2 separate regions of the Homo sapiens genome follow, and region 1 is linked to region 2. Evidence: fine-mapped expression QTL. A gene starts in region 2. The other region holds a variant in brackets. All regions are shown on one strand. Distances are between the middles of the regions. Region 1 holds the start of LOC124902839 (small nucleolar RNA U13). Region 2 holds the start of CARNS1 (carnosine synthase 1).

Region 1 (4,000 bases), 200 kb after region 2:
GACAGGGTTTCTTCATGTTGCTCACGCTGGTCTCAACTTCCTGACCTCAGGTAATCTGCCTGCCTAGCCTCCCAAAGTGTTGGGATTACAGGTGTGAGCCACTGTGCCTGGCCTTTTTTTTTTTTCCCCCTTATTTTTCTTCTCTTTACGTAGAAAACTCTTCATGCAGGGGATAAGGTACTCACTTTATGTTACTGAATATGTATTTTCCTTTTCTTCCCTGAAACTGAACCAGTGTATAAGACCCAGGTGTAAGAGTCATCTTTAACCATAAAAAGGGAACACATTCTAAAAACCAATTTTCAGACTGAATCTTAGAATGGGTACATAATTACCTCTAAGAATGACAGAGTTTTGAGGGGCGCCTCTGCCCGGCCGCCCCTACTGGGAAGTGAGGAGCCCCTCTGCCCGGCCACCACCCCGTCTGGGAGGTGTGCCCAACAGCTCATTGAGAACGGGCCAGGATGACAATGGCGGCTTTGTGGAATAGAAAGGCAGGAAAGGTGGGGAAAAGATTGAGAAATCGGATGGTTGCCGTGTCTGTGTAGAAAGAAGTAGACATGGGAGACTTTTCATTTTGTTCTGCACTAAGAAAAATTCCTCTGCCTTGGGATCCTGTTGATCTGTGACCTTACCCCCAACCCTGTGCTCTCTGAAACATGTGCTGTGTCCACTCAGGGTTAAATGGATTAAGGGCGGTGCAAGATGTGCTTTGTTAAACAGATGCTTGAAGGCAGCATGCTCGTTAAGAGTCATCACCAATCCCTAATCTCAAGTAATCAGGGACACAAACACTGCGGAAGGCCGCAGGGTCCTCTGCCTAGGAAAACCAGAGACCTTTGTTCACTTGTTTATCTGCTGACCTTCCCTCCACTATTGTCCCATGACCCTGCCAAATCCCCCTCTGTGAGAAACACCCAAGAATTATCAATAAAAAAATAAATTAAAAAAAAAAAAAAAAAAAAGAATGACAGAGTTAAACAGGAGTATTTTACTATGGAATTATACATTTTTTTTCTTTTGAAACATTTTCCCTATTTTAGAATATTTACCTATTTTAGAATAGACATCTTTTTTTTTTTTAAATTAACAGACTGTGTCTCACTCTTCCACCCAGGCTGGAGTACAGTGGCACCAACATAGCTCACTGCAACCTGGAACTCCTAGGTTCAAGCAATCCTCTCACCTCAGCCTCCCCAGTAGCTAGGATTACAGGCATGCACCACCACACCCGGCTTTGTTGCCCAGGAGAGTCTCAAACTCCTTGCTTCACATAATCCTCCCACTTTGGGCTCTCAAAGGGTTGGAATTACAGGTATGAGCCCCTGTGCCTGAACTGTACTTTTGTTACTCTTAACAAATAAAAAGAAATGTACTTTTATAAAATGTGTTGAAGAAGCACTGGCTTCCTCTCTTAATTCTACTAGTAGGGCAATTCCTGTAACTCCAACAATAATATCAATGATGTGTATAGTGATACGTAACTCCTACACCAAAATAAATGTTGCAAAATAGGCACCATAATGGTTGACTATTATTGCAGTACATAGGTCAGTGACCATTCCTATAATATATAAAAGACCATTCATATAAAAGTTGTGAATTCTTCATTAATTGTTATTTTAAAATTTTTAATACTTTTAATTCTACCAAAAAGTTTCAAGAGCAGTAGCATTAATAGTTCTACACTCTTCTCTGCAATTCTCCAACTGTTAACATTTCTCCACATCTGCTCATCTCCATACTAGCTTAGTATTCTGCTAAGCTACTTGAGAGTAACTTACAAACATCACAACCCCCAAATATTCTAATTGCTGTTTAATCCCAGTATCATCTATACTTTCATATATGATTCAGCCCTTACCAATTAGAATTCTGCTAAAAAATAAGCTCTCATTCTCTAAGGTGGAGGCTAGCCAGCAAACAACACTTAGTGGATTTGGCCTGCTGCCTCTTTTTATGATTCCTGTGAACTAGGAGTGTTTTTTACCTTTTTTTTTTTTTTTCGGGTCAGACAGGTAATGTGCTGACGTATTAATAGTAACAAGGTTCAAGGGTGGCATCTTTCACATACGTGCATGAACACCTAATCATGATCATGAACTATATAAAAGGATCGTTTTTTACATTTTTTAATGGTTGAAAAAAATTTAAGAGTATTCTGTGACATGTTAAAGTTATCTGAAATTCAACTTTCAGTGTCTATGAATAAAATTTTATATTATTTGAGCCACACTCATTTGTTTAAGTATTTCATGCTACAAGGTAGGGTTAAACAGTTACAATAGACACTTTATGACCCACGAAGCCTAAAATATTTACTATCTGGTCCTTTGCAGGAAAAGTTTGTCAACTCTTGCCTTAAGGTATCCATTGTATATAATAAATTAACTTTTTTCTATGCATCTAGAAGGGTATTAGCTGTGTATCATCCTAGAGAAAAATGA[G/T]AAAATAAGATACACAAATTATTTTATTTTGGGCTTAATTCTCTCTTGAAACCCCAGTTGAGAAAGACAGTATATACATTTATATAATTAAAGTAAGATGCTTTGAGTATAGTCATCAGTGTAGAAAAAGATACATGAATTTAAAGTTCTGAAATTTGGGTTGATAAGCCCCATTACACCAAATTATTCTGTGAGCATAAAAATGAAACACATGGCTCAAGAGATTACCAGAGGTAAATGTCTGGCCTTATAAAAATCCAAGATACTGTGGGATGCAGTAGCTCACACTTGTAATCCCAGCACTTTAGGAGGCCAAAGCGGGCAGATCACTTGAGCCCAGGAGTTCAAGACAAGCCTGGGCAACACAGCAAAAACCCATCTCCAAAAAATACAAAAAAATTAGCTGCATGTGGTGGCGTGTGCCTGTAGTCCCAGCTACCTGGGAGGCTGAGGTGGGAGGATCAACTGAGCCCAGGGAGGTTGAGGCTGCAGTGAGCCATGACTGTGACACTGCACACCAGCCTGGGCAACAGAGTGAGACTCTGTCCCAAATATTAAAAGAAAAAAATGTTACTTTTTCCCATTCACTATGGTGTTGGCTAAAAAATAAAATAAAATAAAATAAAATTTTAAAAAAAGGAAAGAAAAAGAAATCCAAGATACCAAAAACCTCACAGAATTGGAGTCCCTAAAACGGAGTATGTAAATCGTGTTAAAATTTTTATTTGGCCAGTCGCAGTGGCTCACACCTGTAATCCCAGCACTTTGGGAGGCTGAGGTGGGAGGACTGCTTGAACCAGGAGTTCTAGACCAGCCTGGGCAACGCAGTGAGACCAAGTCTCTACGAAAAAAATTAAAAATTAGTCAGATGTGGTGTGCACCCACGGTCCCAGCTACTTGGGAGGCTGAGGCAGGAAGATGCTTGAGCCTGGGAGGTTGAGGCTGCAATCATCCATGATCACGCCACTGCACTCTAGCCTGGAAAACAGAACAAGATTCTGCCTTAAAAAAAAAAAAATTAAATTTAAAATTTTGTGTGTTCCCAAAATGTCAACACTGCATTTTAACTGAAAGAAAAATGGAAGTTTTGATAAACCATCAGTGAATCTCTTGTAACATCTATCATAACTGGAGTAAACCTCTTCACATGCAACTGTTACATAAGATTACTTACCCGTGTCCGATCTTCAATGTTGTATATTTTTAACTGCATAGGGATGTTGAAGCTATGCAAAAAATTGCCCCCAAACACTAATGTGTCTGTAGGAGTATACACAGCATGAATCCAGCCTAGGAGAAGGGGAACAGAGGGCAGTGGCTGAAAACACACATTACAGTAAGTCTCTCTCAGAGAACTAGTACAAGACCCCTAGATCACACTCTTCACTCTGATTCTGCTTCTTAGTGGTTTGTCAAGTTACTTAATCTCTCAAAGCCTCAATTTCCTCTATAAAACCAGGATAAATAATACCTCTTATGGTTGCTCATGAGCATTAAATGAGAAAATGCACATCAAATGCTTAGCACATAATAAACGTTTACTGGAGCACCAA
Region 2 (4,519 bases):
GACAGGCAGGGAATGGAGGTGCCCGCCAGTCCTGCCCCGTGAAGCTGGTTTCCCCTTTCTGCAGCTGTTCCAGAGGTGCTGTGGGCTAGGTGACTGGAGACCTGAGTTCTAGCCCGAGCTCTGACTTTCTGTGTAACCTTGGAGGAGTCAGTGTTCCTCCAAGCCTCAGTTTCCAAGTTTGTACAATGGGACCAAGTCTGTGATTCTCAGGTATTCTGCCTGTGAACCCTCTGTCCACACAAAGTCTGATATATGTAACAGGCGTGGAGGGGCAGAAGGGGAGGAGTCTGGGGGGTCTCAGCTGCTGAGCTGCCTCCACCACAGCTCCCAAGACCTTTCTCTAGAAGCTTCGGTGCCACACAACGTGGTTTCCCAATCCCAGGGCTGGGTCTTTTTGGGGAGGGGGTGAGGGCAGGGAGCCCAATCCTTGACCTCACTGGTGCCAGATGCCCTTGCAAACAATGTCCGCCTACCCTAGGCCAACTGGCTGTGCCTTCCCTGCCTTCAGATGGAACCAGAGCCTAGGGGAAGGGGCCGACCTTGACAGGGATGAGCAAGCAGACTGGGCTGAGGGCCCCTCCCTGCCCCCAGAGGTGCCTCCCTCCAGGGAGCCCTTGGGCACCTGTGCGGGGCACCTGGCCGCGGTCCTGAGTCTCCGGAAGGCCAGCTTGCTGCAGACAGCTCTGCAGGAGGCTGTAGTAGTAGACAGTCCAAGCCCGGGCCTCGGCCCCCTCGGGGGATCCCTTGCAGTCCAGGCCCACGTCCTGGCGCCAGGAGCCAGGGAAGCAGCCTGTGGGCGGCAGGCCAGAGCCCCCTCCCCAGGGGCCCTCTTCCTCCAGGTCCTTGGAGCCCAGTGGGCAATCCCACTCGGGACCCGATGGATCCAGGGAGAGCTGAGAGGGCAGAAGTGGTAGGTCTTGGGCAGGGTGGGCCAGTGGGCACATTAAGTCACCCAAGGGTGTAAGCCCCCCACTCTCCCAGCCTGGGCTATGTTCAGGGCTGACACCGTCCCGGGGACTAGGAGAGGAAAGGCTTGTGTTGGGGGCGAAGGCTTGTTAATGGGAACGCAACCGTGGGAGTGCTTTGTAAACTGTTCTGTGTGGTGCCCCTGGGGGGAGGGCAGGAAGCAATGTCTTGCCAGCCAGCCCCTCCCGCCCCTGCCATGCTGGGCTCCGCCTTAGCTTGCTTCACAGCAGCAGAGTTTTCTGCTTGTTTTGTTCATGGAGGCAACCCCAGCACCTAAAGCGTGCCTGGCACACAGCCACTTCTCAGTAAGTGTTTGTTGACTGAAGAGTAGATGAATGAACGAACCCAGCCATCACTCTGAGGTGGCTTATTTCTGTCTCATGACCCGGCATGGAGTGTGCTGACACCTAAATGTGATTCCACTGTCATCCCCACGTAGGTCTTGAAGCCCTACTGTGTGCCCAGCCCTGGGCTAAACATTAGGAGGCTAGACAGTATCCCCCCTGCAGATATTTTGAGTCACGGAAATGCTTTCTTTGGATGAAACCTAACGTCCCTCCCCTCTCTGAGGCTGGCGCCCCCCCAATATGGGGCTGCTGGGAGGCTTCGTGTGAATGGAATTCTTGTTCTTTGCAGTCCCCAGGCCTGGACAGGCCTGGCAGCTGAGTCTGTCCTCCAGGGGACAGGCTCGGCCACCTTGAGCAAGTCGTGAGGTCTCTTTGGACCTTGTTGCCTGGTGCCTGCCCTCTCCCATCCCCTGGGGGCTGATGAGGCTGGGACGAAGAGAATCTCTTGGTTGTTGGGAGATGGTGTGCTGTGGCCCAGACGGCAGAGGACTGGGCCTCATGCCTGGGCTCGAATCCCAGTTTGCCAGGGCCAGAGCCTCTGTGCCGTCTCCTAGAAGGTGAGCTCCCTGAGGGGCCATGGAATGAATGAATGTCACAGGGCACTAAGAGTGCCCACCTCCCAGGATGCAGCCGCAGGGTGGGGGTGGGGGAGCTGGTCGTGGGTCTAAGCTGTCTGCAGGGGGCAACTCCCAGGCTTAGGTCCTAGGTGCTGCCTGCTGTCCTCTGGGCCCACTCTCTGCCCAGGGACTTGGGCCTTGTGGGGGAGGGACCACAGAAGACTCACCATCTCGTGGGTGGAGTGGCTGAGAGACTGATGGCAGAGACAGAGGGACAGAGAGACGAAGGAGTCAGGGCAGCCAAGTCCCTGCCTGGCCTTCCAGCCCCTAGACTTTGGGAGTGGAGAGGTGGCCGACACCTGTCCCTGCAGAGAGAGGCCAAGGCAGCCCCACCCCCACCCCGAAGGTAGGGAGGGATTTCTGCTGCCCAGACCGAGTGGCTCCTGCCCCAGTGCGGCTCACAGGTCCTTCCTGCCCTGGGGTCCGGGCTTGGCTCTGCCCCTCCAGCGCGGGGGGGAGTTGGGGGCACCGGGTCCCGGGGGTGGGGGGCGTAGCGTCGAGGGTCCCGCCGCGGGGAGCGGGCGCCCGGGGTCCTCGTCCCCGCGACTCCTGCCCCGGCCGCCCCCCTCCCTGGCTCTCCCCGGGGCGGGGCCGGAGCTGGGGTACCTGGCGGCGGCAGCGGCTCGGCGGGCGTGGCGGGCGGACTCGGACCGGGCGGGATGCAGCGGCGGCGGCGGTGGCAGTGGCACAGCGCCCGGCCCAAGCGGCGCCGCTTTATATAGAAACGCCTGGGGCATGCCCAGTGCCCAGCGGGGGCGGCGCGGGGCGGACGGACCGACAGGGACCGATAGGGACCCGCCGGGGACGCGCCCCCCCCCCCCCCCGCCCGTCAGCCACGAAAACGTCCCAGACCTGGGGGCGTGTGGCGGGACACGGACCCAGCAGGAGGAGGGCACGGAGCAGGCAGGGAGAGACGGGGGTCTTCAGAGACACAGAGGAAGTCCCGACAGAGGGCCAGGTACAGATGGACAGGGACTGTCGTCGAGGGTCACAGACGTAGGGCTGCCATGAAGAAAGAGGGAGGCCCACCATGGAGAAGAGATGGAAAGGAGGGGCGGGGAGAGCCGGAGCAGGCAGAGACTGGTACTAGGGCCCGCCCTTAGGGGTGGGGTGCCCGGGAGAGCAGCCTGGAGCACACAGCCCTGAGCCCTACCTTTGGATGGAGGCCGGAGGTCCCAGCCCTGCAGCTTTCTGTCCCAGCTGCCAGCGCTTTGCCCTATTGCACGTTCTCCCAGAGAGGCCCTCCTGGGCCAGGGTCTCCACACATCTGTGCAGCCCCCTCCTCACTTCTGGACCCAGTGGACTTGCACACAGGGGCCAGGATGTCTATAAGATCCAGCCTCTCCTGGTGCGGTGGCTGCCTATAATCCCAGCACTTTGGGAGCCTGAGGCAGGAGAATTGCTTGAACCCAGGAGTTTGTGACCAGCCTGGGCAACATAGCAAGACCCTGTCTCTATAAAAAAAAAAAATTTAAACTAGCTGGTTGAGGTGGTGTGGGCCTGTAATCCCAGCTACTTGGGAGGCTGAGGTGGGAAGATCACATGAGCCCCGGGGGTCGAGACTGCAGTGAGTCCTGGTTGTGCCACTGCACTCCAGCCTGGGCAATACAGTGAGAGCCTATCTCTCTCGCTCGCTCCGCTTTTTTTTTTTTTTTTTTTTTTTTTGAGACAGAGTTTCAGTGTGTCGGCCCAGGCTGGAGTGCAGTGGTGTGATCTCAGCTCACTGCAACCTCTACCTCCCAGGTTCAAGTGATTCTCCTGCCTCAGCCTCCTGAGTGGCTGGGATTACAGGCACACGCCACCACGCCTGGCTAATTTTTGTGTGTTTAGTAGAGACAGGGTTTCGCCGTGTTGGCCAGGCTTGTCTTGAACTCCTGACCTCAGGTGCTCCTCCTGCTTCGGCCTCCCAATGTCCTGAGAATACAGGTGTAAGCCACTGTACCCAGCCGAGACCCTATCTCTCTCTCTTTTTTTTTTTTTTTTTTTTGACCCTATCCCTTTTTTTTTTTTTTTTTTTTTTAAGACAGAGTCTTACTCTGTCACCAGGCTGGAGTGCAGTGGCACAATCTTGGCTCACTGCAACCTCCGCCTCCCCGGGTCCAGTGATTCTCCTGCCTCAGCCTCCCAAGTAGCTGGGACTACAGGTGCGAGCCACCATGCCCAGCTACTTTTGTTTTGTTTTGTTTTGTTTTGTTTTTGAGATGGAGTTTCGCTCTTGTTGCCCAGGCTGGAGTAGCTGGGATTATAGGCATGCGCCACCATGACAGCTAATTTTGTATTTTTAGTAGAGACAGGGTTTCTCCATGTTGGTCAGGCTAGTCTCGAACTCCCGACCTCAGGTGATCTGCCCGCCTCAGCCTCCCAAAGTATTAGGATTACAGGCATGAGCTACCGCGCCCAGCCCACCCAGCTAATTTTTGTATTTTTAGTGGAGACGGGGTTTCATGATGTTGGCCAGGATGGTCGCAATCTCCTGACCTCATGATCTGGTCACCTTGGCCTCCCAAAGTGCTAGGATTACAGGTGTGAGCCACTGCACCTGGCCCCCCTATCTCTTTAAAAAAAAAAAAAAAGAAAGAAAAAAGAAGA

What was found. PIP is the estimated chance that this variant, and not a neighbour inherited with it, causes the effect.
Region 1: its variant is the best candidate, but not a certain one, in a credible set for the expression of CARNS1 in whole blood (INTERVAL, PIP 0.65).

The regions. Positions count from the first base shown.
Region 1 is chr11:67,219,025-67,223,024 of GRCh38, reverse strand. It overlaps KDM2A (lysine demethylase 2A), which reads right to left. Exons shown (of 21, transcript NM_012308.3): 10 at 3,622-3,737. It overlaps LOC124902839 (small nucleolar RNA U13), which reads right to left and starts at 2,117; the gene lies at 2,009-2,117. RefSeq lists an enhancer at 1-767. The variant G/T (reference allele first, on the strand shown) is at 2,448.
Region 2 is chr11:67,413,781-67,418,299 of GRCh38, reverse strand. CARNS1 (carnosine synthase 1) reads right to left here and starts at 2,622. Exons shown (of 10, transcript NM_001166222.2): 1 at 2,537-2,622; 2 at 2,098-2,124; 3 at 623-893. The coding sequence starts at 2,100. RefSeq lists an enhancer at 1,049-1,884.